Regions from separate parts of the Homo sapiens genome. Here region 1 is linked to region 2. A link means that fine-mapping ties the variant in region 2 to the expression of a gene that starts in the linked region. Tissue or cell type: testis. Region 2 holds a variant in brackets; the other region holds the start of a gene. All regions are shown on one strand. Distances are between the middles of the regions.

Region 1 (6,401 bases), 55 kb after region 2:
TCCAAGAATCTAGGCGCAGGTTAGCCTTTATAGTTCAAGAAACTGGGGTGTAGAAAAGTTTGTTGTCAGATGAGTTGGAGACGATCTTAAGTCCCATCCAGTTCTAATAGTCTAAGCTTTTAGAATCCAAGGAGTTGACTCTTTTGACAACCTAGGAATTTTGAAATCTGCTTTACTTCAAGCTGTACTGAAGCCTTACCCAAATTTGGGGGAGTGAAAGGAGGGAAGGGGAGAAAGCCAGACAAATGGTCAAATCAGAGAAGAGAATGACAGAAGACTGGCCAAAATTAGCCTATCCATAATAACTCTATCCCGAGATCATCAAGAACTTTATCTGGGCCAAGGAGTTTATCCTCCATTCTGAAAAGAGGAAATACAACGTAATAGCAAGAAAATATAGACAGAGCCTGAGGAAAAAAATAAGTTATCCTTCACTGCTCTGGCAAAGCAACTAGTAGGCCTTCCTAAGAAAGCAGTGGGGCCTGCCCAAAAGTGTTCTGGAGGTCACAGAACTGCCCTGTGTCAGTGTCTCAACTCTAGGCTGTGACCCCGAACGAGTTACTAATAACCTCTCACTCCTTTCTCCTCACCTGAAAAAGAGGATCCCACACGTGTCCTGTAAGGTTGCTGTGGGGATTGGAAATAATATGTTAAAGGGCCTGTCCTTAAAAACCATCCTATAAGTGATACCACGCTGTGATCTGAAAAGCTCATCTGAACCTTTTATCCTTTTCAATTCATATCATGTAATCCTTCTGTCTAGACTGCACATAAGAATTACAAGTAAGTCTGAAAAGCTCTGGCTCCTTCCTTAAAGAACTCTATCCTCTCGCTTTCCCTAAAGTGGAAGAATCTCTGAGTGATATGAGGAAAGGATTAGCAAGCCAAAAGGGGCAGGTGCCACCCAGCCCCATCTTACAAGAAACTGGACTGTCAGCGCTCTGAGGGCAGGGACTGCTCTGTTTAAACCACGACTGCACACACATTTTCCTAAAGCAAGCTAATTGCAGACTTAAGCCTCTCCGAACAGCTTACATGACACCCAAACATGGACCCACAATACATTTTGTGTCGCACAACATCAAGTCACACAAAAATCTCAAAATTATACATTACAATACAATTTAATTGTGCTGTGGTATTAAAGTCAAAGACAAAGGCTTTAAACCGAGTGCCTATGAGGTAACCACAGTAAAGTCACACCTTTAATAATAAGGGACCAAGAACACACGGGATGGCAACAGGGAGTGAGTGTCCAGCAGAGCCCTAGACGGAACTGGCGCAACCGCTCCAGATCGGAATTCGAACCCAGAACTTCTGGCGAAGGCCATGTAAGAACTACTCCAAGGAGGAAGAGGCCTTTACGGCCAGGTGCACCTTGCTGGAACTTTCTGCCGGAGGGGACCCCCTCCCCTCGGCCTGGGCCCCAAGCCCCAAGGGCGGCCGCGTGACGCGGTGGGAAGGACGAGGGTCGCCAGCCCCTTCTGCTCCGCACTGGGGTAGGGGCTCGGCGCTGTCTCGGAGAAAGGCCAGGCTCCTTCCAGTCAGGGAATAATGACAGCTCGCGCGCTCGCAGCCCGCCCCGCCCCGCCTCACCAGGCCCGCAGGCGGCTCCTCCCGCCCGGCTGAGGGGTCCGGCCGCGCCCCCTCCTCTCCCCGCCCTGGCCCGGGGTGCCCCCCGCCCGCACCGCCAGCCTCACCGGGTCGGAGCTGGAGGCCGCCGTCGCGGCGGCTGCACCACAGCGCGCGCTCGCCCTGCTGCAGGATGTAGTGGTCCTTGGCTTGGAAGAGCTCCATGCTGGCCCCGCGCGCCCAGGGAGGCGGCGGCCCGCGGGCGGCGCACGGGGCGTCCTAGTCGGTCGAGGCCGCCAGAGCCCGCGCCTCGGGGAGCGGCCGGGTAGGAACCGCGCCGAGAAGCAGCGGCAGAGGGAACGCCCCGGGGCACCCGACCGGTAGGAGGAGAACGCGCCCCGGCAGCGGCGGCGGCAGCGGCGGCCGTAGAGGCCTCTCCCCCCCGCTCCTCCCCTTCCCTGGCTCCGCCCCAGGCCCGGCTCCACCCCCTCTGCTGGCTACTCTCCCCGAGCGCCCGGCTCCGCCCCTCAGCCTCCTCCTCCTTTCAGCTCCCTCCCGCTTCCTGCCCTTTCCTCCGCCTTCTCCCGGGTGTCTCCTCCCAGCTCCTCCCCGCGGGTCTTTCCTCCTCCCTCTCGTCCTTCCGCCCGCCCCTCCCGCTCTTGCCCAGGCCCCTCCCCCGGCGCGCCAGCCTTCCTGTCGTGGTCACCGGTGGCAGCTCGGGAGCTCGGCCGAGTCGGTCTGGACTGACCGCCTCCCTCCGCGCGGCCTTGGGGACAGGCGCCCACCGCTGGGGCCTCCCCTCCGTGCAGGGAGGCGCTCACGCTTCGCCAGGCCGAGACCTGAATCCAACCCCACACCCGCTCTCCCGGAGCGGTGCGGGGTACGTTCCCCGCGGGCCTGCGCTGCCTGCCCGTACCGAAACCAGGCGAGACCCCGGGGCCTGGCTACAGGGGTTCATCCCCAGCCAGGCCCACAGCCAAGCGGAGGCGTCTTCTGTTTTCGTATTCCCTATTAGAAGTTTGACAACAGGAGGCATTCAATAAATGCACATCAACGAGGGAAAGCATGTAACAATAGAAAACACACAAGCATTAGCAGCACGCGGCTAAAGAGCGAGGAGGAAGGGAGGAATGTACAGGTGCTGCTGTGTCCCGAATTAAGCAGGGCGGTTTGGAGAAGACTTCACAAATGGAGCCAGTTAATGAAGCAAGCGGAAGGAATATCGTTTGGCGAGGATAAGATGAATGGAGACCCTCTCGGGGAAGGAGGAGTCTCCCCCAAACATCCTTGAGCTCAGTCTGTCTTGAAAAACCAGTTGATATCCTGAACAGAATGGGTCTGGAGAATGAGGCCCCCACTTCCGGGGCCAGTTCGAGGACTATCTAGCTGTGTGATCTTGGGGAAGTCTCTTGGTCTCAGATGGTGGTTGAACTAATGACCTTTTATGACACCCCCAGTTCTATAAATCATTGAGTCTTCCTACTCCTAACTCCTTGCCTTCTCTAATGCCTGAATCGGAAACAAGAGAAAAAGACAAGAAGTAGGAGATGAGAAAAATAAGGCAATACTTTTTTTTTTTTTTTTTTTAGTTTAGGAGCGGAAGTTTATAGGCAAAAGAAAAGGGAGAACAGCTGTCTCTCTTGCGAGAGAGAGGAGTGACCGAATGGGACTTCTCAGAAAGCAATACTTTTAACCTTCTGCTCAAGTAAAAGTGAGAGGGTACAAAAGCAGGAAGGAGTTCCACATGACTAGTTATTCCAGCCCACAGTGTTGAATTTCCATAGCACAGAAAGTCCAATGATAACAAAGCGTCCTGGAATCTTTTCTAAGTACCATGCCTCTGTGCTGTCCAGACACCTCAACATAAAGGTCGAGGGAGGTGGTTACTCTATCAAATCTTTGTGATGTGATTTGGAGAAAGAAGGTAATGAAGCTATAAGAAGCTTCAGTGGAACCATCGGTTTCAGATTGATTGTTTAATTCAGCCATGTGTTGACTTAGCAAAAATGAGAATGAGAAAATCCTATGAAGACATTGTATCCTGCAAATTATTTCATTATTGTTTTATGAATTACATTGCCAGATGTGAAGAAAACAATGCTGTTGTAACTGTTTTAAAACAATTAATTAGTTCATTGAAACTTTTCCTGATGTTTTAGATCCATGGTTCCAACCCTGGCTGCCTATTAGAATCACCTGGGGAATTTTTCAAACATATCAATGCTTGGACCTTAGACCAATTAAATCAGAATTTAATTGGGGTGGGGCTCTGGCATCAGTTTGTTTATTTTTTCTAAGCTCCCCAGATGACTTTACTATGCAGTCAGGCTTGAACACCACTATTTTAAGTGAAATTAATTAGTAAAATCTGCCTGACAGCAGCTTGGAAAAAAACAGCAGTCAGTCATTAACTAATGCCATCATATGGGCTTGGTTACCTGTAAATGCAGAGTTAACAAGCAAAGTCTTTAGGAGAGAGGAAAACATGGAGGGGAGATGCTTCTGTAATTATCTGACCCCAATGCACACTGCTGTCTCCCTCAGGCTCCAAACACATGCTGTGGGGTAGGCACAGCTCTAGCCTGGCTGAGCAGAGTGAAAAGAGCACATATTTTCTGTCCCTGGTAGATGTCACATCCCCAATCTACTGCCACAGTTGCCTTGCCTTGTTTCTGCTATGAACTTCCTGAACCTTGGCCACTGCAGCCTCTCCACTCCCTGGCTAGCCTATCCTCGGCCTGTGGCTAACTTGCCAGCCTCATCACCCTCTTCCAGCTTCCTAATTCAAGGTCCTCCTGCCCCGATGCCACCCAGGTTTTAATGGAAAGTTCACGTGATGCTGCTCTCCTTTTTAAACACAGATGACCATCATACATATTATATATCTTCTTTTACGTGTATGGCATATATATGCTAATTTAAGTATAATCACTAAGGAGTTTGGTTCTAGCCAGTTCTGTGTGATTTTGGTCAGTTCACTCAATCTCTTTTGATCTCAGGGTCCTTATTTATGAAAAGAGATGATCACTAAGTGTTCCCTTCCAGTGCTGAAATCAATGTGAGGAAATGTGTCCACGTAGTTAAACCTACACAAATGATGGTAAATAAGCCAACTGTGATTATCGATTTAGCCCTTCAATATCTCTGAGATCTTTGGATTAGATTTTGGTATCCTCTGGTGAGATTTGACTTTAACATCATCTCCTGTCTTCTGTCTACTTGTCCATAGTCTTGTTTGTTGTCTGTGATAACTTTCTTCAGTCTTGTCTATGAGAAATCTCCCAAAAGAAGAGATTTATATTTATATAAATATATTCCCCCCTCCCCCAGCCTGCCTGGAGGCTGCTAATGTTGCAGGTCAGCAGTCCAGGTGGCTTAACTTTGTTTTTTGTTTTTTGTTTTTTAATTTTTTTTTTATTGATAATTCTTGGGTGTTTCTCACAGAGGGGGATTTGGCAGGGTCATGGGACAATAGTGGAGGGAAGGTCAGCAGATAAACAAGTGAACAAAGGTCTCTGGTTTTCCTAGGCAGAGGACCCTGCGGCCTTCCGCAGTGTTTGTGTCCCTGATTACTTGAGATTAGGGAGTGGTGATGACTCTTAACGAGCATGCTGCCTTCAAGCATCTGTTTAACAAAGCACATCTTGCACCGCCCTTAATCCATTTAACCCTGAGTGGACACAGCACATGTTTCAGAGAGCACAGGGTTGGGGGTAAGGTCACAGATCAACAGGATCCCAAGGCAGAAGAATTTTTCTTAGTGCAGAACAAAATGAAAAGTCTCCCATGTCTACTTCTTTCTACACAGACACGGCAACCATCCGATTTCTCAATCTTTTCCCCACCTTTCCCGCCTTCTATTCCACAAAGCCGCCATTGTCATCCTGGCCCGTTCTCAATGAGCTGTTGGGCACACCTCCCAGACGGGGTGGTGGCCGGGCAGAGGGGCTCCTCACTTCCCAGTAGGGGCGGCCGGGCAGAGGCGCTCCTCACCTCCCAGACGGGGCGGCTGGCCGGGCAGGGGGCTGACCCCCCCACCTCCCTCCCGGACGGGGCGGCTGGCCGGGCAGGGGCCTGATCCCCCCACCTCCCTCCCCGACGGGGCGGCTGGCCGGGCGGGGGGCTGACCCCCCCACCTCCCTCCCGGACGGGGCGGCTGGCCGGGCGGGGGGCTGACCCCCCACCTCCCTCCCGGAAGGGGCGGCTGGCCGGGCGGGGGGCTGACCCCCCCCACCTCCCTCCCGGACGGGGTGGCTGCCGGGCGGAGACGCTCCTCACTTCCCAGATGGGGTGGCTGCCGGGCGGAGAGGCTCCTCACTTCTCAGACGGGGCAGCTGCCCGGTGGAGGGGCTCCTCACTTCTCAGATGGGGTGGTTGCCAGGCAGAGGGTCTCCTCACTTCTCAGACGGGGCGGCCGGGCAGAGACGCTCCTCACCTCCCAGACAGGGTCGCGGCTGGGCAGAGGCGCTCCTCACATCCCAGATGGGGCGGCGGGGCAGAGGCGCTCCCCACATCTCAGACGATGGGCGGCCGGGCAGAGACGCTCCTCACTTCCCAGATGTGATGGCGGCTGGGAAGAGGCGCTCCTCACTTCCTAGATGGGATGGCGGCCGGGCGGAGACGCCCCTCACTTTCCAGACTGGGCAGCCAGGCAGAGGGGCTCCTCACATCCCAGACGATGGGCGGCCAGGCAGAGACACTCCTCGCTTCCCAGACGGGGTGGCGGCCGGGCAGAGGCTGCAATCTCAGCACTTTGGGAGGCCAAGGCAGGCGGCTGGGAGGTGGAGGTTGTAGCGAGCCGAGATCATGCCACTGCACTCCAGCCTGGG
Region 2 (7,818 bases):
AAAATGTTACAGATTGGTGGCCATGAAGGACATCAGAACACCTCCCTGAAAGGCCTAACAAAGGTCCCAACCTTTTCTGGATGATGTGTGACATTTAATTTCCGAAGAACTGGGAGTGCCAAATATGCAAATCATGACTGGCAGATGGATAAAGTGCTGGGCGGGCTGGTTCCCATCTCTAAATCAAACTGCCAGAGACCCCAGTCTTAGTGCTCAAACCTGAATGCCAGGCCAAAGGGGTGCCCACCCTCAAGGGAAAGGTCTGTGATAACAAGCCATCCTGATCTTTCAGTGTGTCAGCAAAACCATCCAAAAGACACTGCCAGCAAATTTACTGGCTTAGGAAACTAACAAAATTTTTGCTAGTCTGGCTGCTCTTCACCCAAAAAAAATGCAGACAAAAACTGCAAACATCTGCTTTTAATAGGCCTAATTGCCACCTAGGTTTTTTGTCTCTCGATCAGCAATAGTGAATAGTGTTCTAGCATAAGTACCAATAAAAGGAGAATTAAGAACTCCAAACTTTTTTCGATTCCTGTAACAAATAATTAATATCAGAGTCCACTTAAATTCATTTTGTTTCTTAAAATTCAATTGTCAAACTTCCAGTGACATTTGAAGCATAAAAATAGTTTTATTTTTACTTATTCTTAAGGCAATTTAACCCTGTCCCCAAAGTTCCTCCCCAAGAACTCTACATGGAAAAACATGTGTTGAGTTGTGGGGCAGTGTGTGCTTTGCTGTTACCTGATGTTCAGGTAACAGGGCGGCAGCTCAGCAGAATTATATAGGACCAGGCAGCCTGAGTCTAGATCCAGGCCCCACCTCTGCCAGCTGTGTGACTTAACCCTTGCCAGGCCTCCTTTATTTGTTTTTATTTTATTTTCTAAAATCCATTCACTCATTAATTTTTTTTTTCCACAAGACAAGGTCTGGCTATGTTGCCCAGGCTGGTCTCGAACCCCTCAGCTCAAGCAATCCTCCAGCCTCAGCCTGTCAAAGACAGGAGCCACCCACCTAGCCTCCTTTATTTGTAGTAATGTCTACCTCATAGGGGGGTCTTGGGGACTAAATATTATCATCTATGTAATACACAGGGCCCACCTGGCACATCACATAGTGAACAAAACAATCGGAGTGATGACAATTACTAGGCATCTAATTCCCATACTAAGAGCAAACAGGACATAAATGCTTTCATGGGTTACTTCTACTAGGAGGCAGCACCTTGTGGTAAAAAACACTAGCCCTAGACAATCTCATTATTCCATCCTTAAATCACTCTACTTGTGGACTTGAGCTCTTCTCTGGAAAATAAAGAGATTACATTAGATGAGTGACTGTCTTCCTTTTAAAAAACTTTCTTTGTAAATTTTAATAGAGTAATATATGCTTAGAAAATTTTCAAGAAATGCAGACAAAAGAGGATATAATAAGAGCTCTCCTTTTCTTAACTCACTCCTTTTCCCTAAGAAGTTTTCAAACTGTACTGTGCAGAGCCCTAGGGCACCCTGGAAACAGAAGGTGGCTTCCCAGGAGAGATCAAGTGGACAGAGCCCCAGGGATTCCCCCAACACTACTGCGACCACAGCAGCCCTGCCTTTATGTGTCTTCTACACTAGATTTCATGGATTTTGAGACAAGAGTTCCACTACTAAGTTGGAAAATCTTAGGATTAAATTATTTTAAAAACATTACCCAGCTCTAAAAATGTAAGTTTCTGGTCTACTGAACCAAATCCTCATATTTGCTATTACATTTATATCAGGTTTCCATATAATTTCCCTTTATTTCACCTACCTCTAGCTCAAGATCCTGAGGTTCCATTTCAGAAAGTGAGAGCACAGCAATTTTGGTAACTTTACAGACCTCATGGTCTCCTGGGAGTTTGCCCACCAATGCTTTCTGCCGAATTAGAATAAGCCACCATGGAAGATCTGAAAGAGGAGAGTCATAATAAAGTCTGGCGTTTTTAGAGTGCTACTGTTCTGACAAGTTGAAGGTGAATAACCTAACAATGATAACAAAAAAAAAAGTGTGCATCCAAAATAAACTTTTAAAGTAAAACATGTCACAAAGACATAAAATGACCCTTAAACATGTGAAAAGATGTTCAATCTCACTCATAATTAGAGAAATGTAAATTAAAACCAGTTGTGACACCATGCTCACCCATCAGATTGGGAACAATTAACAAGAATGACAACACATGTGCTGGCGAGACTGTGAGAAAACTCAAAACAGCTGTGCAGGTGAGAATACCGATGACAAACACAACTTTTCTGGAAGGAAATTTAGCAATACCTAACAATACAACAAATGCACTTACCTTTAATCAGTCCAGTGATCCCATCTTTGGGAATTTACCCTGAGGGTACACCTCAACAACCAAAGTATATACACTGAAGCCTATTTTATAATTACAATAAACACTGGAAACAGCCTAATGTCCAGATACAGGACAGTGGTTGAATAAACTATGGCACATCCATGCAATGGAGTACTATGCAGCTGTAAAAAAACAAAAAAGTATTCTATGAATTAATAAGGAAGGATTCCTGGATGCACTTAGTAGATAACCTGAATATATTATTAACATACAGCCATCCCTCGGTATCTGCAGGGGACTGGCTCCAGGACCCCCCGTGGATACCAAACTCCACGGATGCTCAAGTCTCTCATGTAAAATGGTGTAGTATTTGTATATAACCTATGCACATCCTCTCATATACTTGAAATAATCTCTAGATTGCTTACAATACCTGATATAATCTAAATGCTATGGTAAACAGTTTTTAAACTGTATTGTTTAAGCAATAATGATGAGAAAGAAAAGTCTATACATGTCCAGTACAGATGCAACCATCTTTTCCAAAAATTTTCCATGTGTGGTTGGTTAGATCCACAGACACAGAACTCAATGGATACACAGGGCCGACTGTACATAATAAGGCTATGTTATAATAACATAATAAATATATGTTTTGTTTTGTTTGAGACTGGGTCTCACTCTGTCACCCAGGCTAAAGTGCAGTGGTGCAATCTCAGCTCATGGCAGCCTCTGCCTCCTGGGCTCAAGCAAACCTCCCATCTCAGCCTCTAATGTAGCTGGGAACACAGGCATACACCACCATGCCCAGCTAATTTTTGTACTTTTTTTTAAGAGATGGGGTTTTGCCATGTTGCCCCAGCTGGTCTCAAACTGCTGGGCTCAAGCAATCTGCCAGCCTTGGCCTCTCAAAGTGCTGGGATTATAGGCATGAGCCACCGTGCCCAGCCAATAAAATATATTATTAAATCAAAGCATAAAAGAATACCTAGAGTGTACTACCCTTCATGTAAGGAAGAAAATATGAGGTGATATATATCTATACAGTCACATACCACATAATGATGTTTCAGTCAACGATGAGCTACATATGCAGTAATGGCCCCTTAAAATTATCATGGAGCTGAAAAATTCCTATCAC[G/A]TAGTGACATCATAAATGTAGCATGACACATTTCACATTTGTGTGATTCTGGTATAAACCTACTGCACTGCTAGTGATAGAAAAGTATACAACATACAATTACATCTATACATAAGACTTGATAATAATAAATGACTGTTACTGGTTTACATATTTGCTATACTGTACTTTTTACCATTATTTTAGGTATACTCCTACTTATAAAAAAAGTTAAATAAGGGTAAAAAGAAAATATTTTTGCACAGCTGTACAATGTGTTTGTGTTTTAACCTAAGTGTTATTACAGAAGAGTCAAAAAGTTTTAAAACATTAAAAAGTTTATAAAGTAGAAAAGTTACAGTAAGCTAAGGTTAATTTAGTATTGAAGAAAGAACTTCTGGCAGGGCATGGAGGCTCATTCATGCCTGTAATTGCAGCACTTTGAGAGGTCAAAGTGGGAGGATTGCTTGAGCCCAGGACTTCAAGACCAGCCTGGGTAACATATGGAGACCTCGTTTCTACAAAAAATTAAAGAATTAGCCAGGAGTTGGGACACGCACCTGTAGTCCCAGCTACTCGGGAGGCTGAGGTAGGAGGATCGCTTAAGCCTGGGAGGTTGATGCTGCAATAAGCCATGGTCATGACACTGCACTCCAGCTTGGGTGACAAGGAAAGATCCCGTCTCATAAAAAAATAAAAATAAAAACCCAAAAAAATTTTTAAAAAAGAAAGAAAAGATTTTAAAGTCAGTGTCGCCTACATGTATGATGTTTATAAAGTCTATAGTAGTGTACGATAATGTCCTAGGCCTTCACATTCACTCACTGACTCATCCAGAGCAACTTCTGGTTCCGCAAGTTCCATTCATAGTAAATGCCCAATACAGGTGTACCATTCTTATCTTTCATACCATATCTTTTGTACAGTATTTTTACTGTACCATTTCTATGTTTAGATGAAATTGCCCAACAATGCATTTCTCATTAAGTGATGCATAACTATATGTATCCACCCATTTGTACAAAAACAAGAAGAGGAGAGAACCAGAAGTCAGTGAGATTAGTTATCTCCACAGAGTAGGTGGAAACGGGGTACAGAGAAGAGGGGGATGGGAATAGGATAAAAGAGATGAAGGGGAAATGACAATTCTCTGAGTATGCCCTGGCAAATGACTGGTCTCTGAGTAGAATTCTGACTCTTAGAACAACGGTAATGTTTCACATATCCGTTAAAATAAATAGTTCAAATCAACCAGAATGTGGGAGAACCTCAAACTGCAAATCCAACTCTATTAAAAATTAAGAATAGAACTAAACTGTAGGAGATAGAGAAGAAAAAACTAACTGAACTAACTTCAGAAAACTATTTGGTAAAAATAAAGACAAAAAGAACCGTATGCACTACTGTACTCTGGTTACTAAATTTATTTTTCAGAAGAGTATGGGTTGGTAATTCTCCAACTACTTTGTGTGTACACTAGGATTGAACAGAGAACTAAATATAATGAGGAGAATGGAGGGAAAATGGCAAAACAACCTAAAGAAACCTTTAATAAACACAAGACAGAAAGAAGCAAACACCCAGTCTTTCCAATCCAAATTTCTACTTCTCACAAGAGATTTTTAATTAAACAAAAAATAGTCTATGAAAGACAGCATGCAAATCAATTTTTCAGTTTATGAGACTACACCATTAAAAAGTACTCCCCAATTAGACCCCAAACCAAAAATTATTGAAATTGTGTTTCAGGAATTTATTATAGAAAAATAACACCATATATTTCCCATATAAAACAATTTTTTTAAAGGATATATAGGCTGGGTGCAGTGGCTCACACCTATAATCCTAGCACTTTGGGAGGCCAGGGAGGGCAGATCACATGAGGCCAGGAGTTCAAGACCAGCCTGGCCAACATGGCAAAATTCTGTCTCTACTAAAAATAACAAAAATTAGCCGGGCATGGTGGTGCACGTATGTAATCCCAGCTACTCGGGAGGCTGAGGCATGAGAATTGCTTGAACTTGGGAGGCAGAGGTTGCAGTGAGCCGAGACGGCACCACTGAACTCCAGCCTGGGCAAGAGAGTGAGACCCTGCCTCAAAAATAAATAAATAAATAATAAAAATAAAAAGGATATATAATATTTTCATTTCCCTCATTTATTCCCCAAGTACTGATCAACTTTCATTTTAGAAATGGTGCTTTGGAGATATGCTTTAAGCGTTTCATAAATGCAGAAGTTTGGAAACATTTCATAATTCCTTATAAAGTAGGGTGGAAATTTACTCCAAAGTTTTAAGGCTTTTATAGGCCATTTCCCTATTATCATTAAACATTAACTGAAGACCTACCATGTGCTAGGAAATTCATCAGGCATGAATGGACATTACCAAGCATCTTGTAGGTGTTATGTGAAACATTACCCTTTAGGTGCTTGGTAACAAACCTAACATGTAAATCTTCTTAAAAAGCACATAACAGATAATAAACTGTTCAATGTCAATAAATTTTGTTGAATAAAAAGAAATCTTTACACTAGGTCTCTTAACATCACAGGAATAATTTCTAACTTATATTATTTTATTTATTTATTTATTTTGAGACAGAGTCTCGTGCTGTTGCCAGGCTGCAGTGCGGTGGCGCAATCTCGGCTTACTGCAACCTCTGCCTCCCAGGTTTAAGCAGTTCTCCTGTCTCAGCCTCCCAAGTGGCTGGGACTACAGGCGCCCGCCACCACGCCTGGCTAATTTTTGTGGGTTTTTTTGTTGTTGTTATTTTAGTAGGGACGGGATTTCACCATATTGGCCAGGCTGGTCTCGAACTCCTGACCTTGTGATGCGCCCGACTTGGCCTCTCAAACTGCTTGGGATTACAGGTGTGCACCACTGCGCCCGGCCATTTCTATCCTACAGTGAACAATTTAGAGTTGGGCCAGGCATGGTGGGTCATCCCTGTAATCCCAGCACTTTGGGGGGCTGAGAAGGGAGGATCACTCAAGGCCAGGAGTTCAAAAACAGCCTGGCAACACAGCAAGGCACCAGCCCTTTAAAAATTGTTTTTAAAAATTAGCTGAGGCCAGGTGCGGTGGCTCATGCCTGAAATCCCAGCACTCTGGGAAGCTGAGGTGGGTGGATCGCTTAAGCCCAGAAGTTTGAAACCAGCCTGGGCAACATGGCGAAACCCCATCTCTGCAAAAGATACACAAGTTATCTGGGCATGGTGGTACATGCCTGTAGTCTCAGCTACTCAGGAGGCTGAGGTGGGAGGATCATTTGAGCCCAGGAGTTCAAGGCTGCAGTGAGCTATGACTGGATCACTGTACTCCAGCCTGGATGACAGAGCAAGACTATGTCTCTAAAAAAAAAATAAACAAGAAATCTTTATGACTCAAGGACCTCTCTTTCTCTCTCTCTCTGTGGGTCACACACACACACACAAACACACATACACACACACACACAGAGGAAGGCCCTTCCTAGTTTACATCTTCTTGCCCTGATTTGCTCTGGATTCATTTCATATCGACATTACAAATTATGATTTTAATAAATTCAATAACAAAAATACAATGTACATTATCAAATATAGTATCTTTCCAATAAACCATCTAAAGGTATAGTACCAAAAATATAAAATTTTTAACTTTCAAACACAGGTTTTATCTCATATACAAACTCACCTGGAAAACCAAGAGGCATCTTTTTTCCCACAAAAACATGGTATTGCCAATACTTAAACTCAACTTACACATTCAAATATATTTTAAAATAAATACACATTTTTTTAGAGTTAACTACTCATATACAAAAATGTGAAAAATCTATGTGCTTCTTTTTAAAAGGTTACAGATATTCAATATGCCTTGCAGTTATGATGAAGATTAAATCTGAGAAAATATAATGTAACAGAAACAAAGCTTTGTCAATAGTAGCCTTCCTTTTTCAAGGAGGCTTCAAGTGTCCTAGACTTTGAGGTCAGAAATTGGACTCAAATTTTAGCTCCATCATTTGCTTCTTGTATACTTCAAAGCATAATACTTAGCTGCTCCAATTCTCAGTTTTCTCATATGAAAACTGGGATAAAGCTGCCTACTTCAGAGAATGGCTATGAGGATTAACAATTTGTATAATTCATGATGCTATTCCTAAGAATTAATGTTTACTGAACATCTACTATAAGTATCACCAGGCAATTTATGTCTATATTTTTAATACCACTACACCCTGCTAACAGATTCCATTTCCAATCTATAGTTGAAAAACTAAGAAACATTCAAATAATGTGCCCCAGGCTTGCAACTGGCCGATAGGATTTTTTTTAAACTTCCCTTTTAGACATCTTCAAACATACATAAAAGTAGAGAGAGCAAT

Direction of the effects. Alleles are on the strand shown, and positions count from the first base shown. SD is a standard deviation of normalised expression in the study named.
For the expression in testis of the gene that starts at base 2,010 in region 1, allele A in region 2 goes with a higher level than allele G (large effect, 1.2 SD a copy in GTEx).

The links. PIP is the estimated chance that this variant, and not a neighbour inherited with it, causes the effect.
Region 1: INPP5F starts here. The variant in region 2 is fine-mapped to the expression of INPP5F in testis (GTEx, PIP above 0.99).

What each region holds. Positions count from the first base shown.
Region 1 is chr10:119,721,659-119,728,059 of GRCh38, reverse strand. INPP5F (inositol polyphosphate-5-phosphatase F) reads right to left here and starts at 2,010. Exons shown (of 20, transcript NM_014937.4): 1 at 1,701-2,010. The coding sequence starts at 1,797. RefSeq lists a silencer at 1,582-2,351 and enhancers at 2,962-3,011, 5,814-6,401.
Region 2 is chr10:119,775,754-119,783,571 of GRCh38, reverse strand. It overlaps INPP5F (inositol polyphosphate-5-phosphatase F), which reads right to left. Exons shown (of 20, transcript NM_014937.4): 3 at 1,801-1,937. Among named protein-coding and RNA genes, the nearest start is that of INPP5F, 54 kb to the right of the region's middle. The variant G/A (reference allele first, on the strand shown) is at 3,471.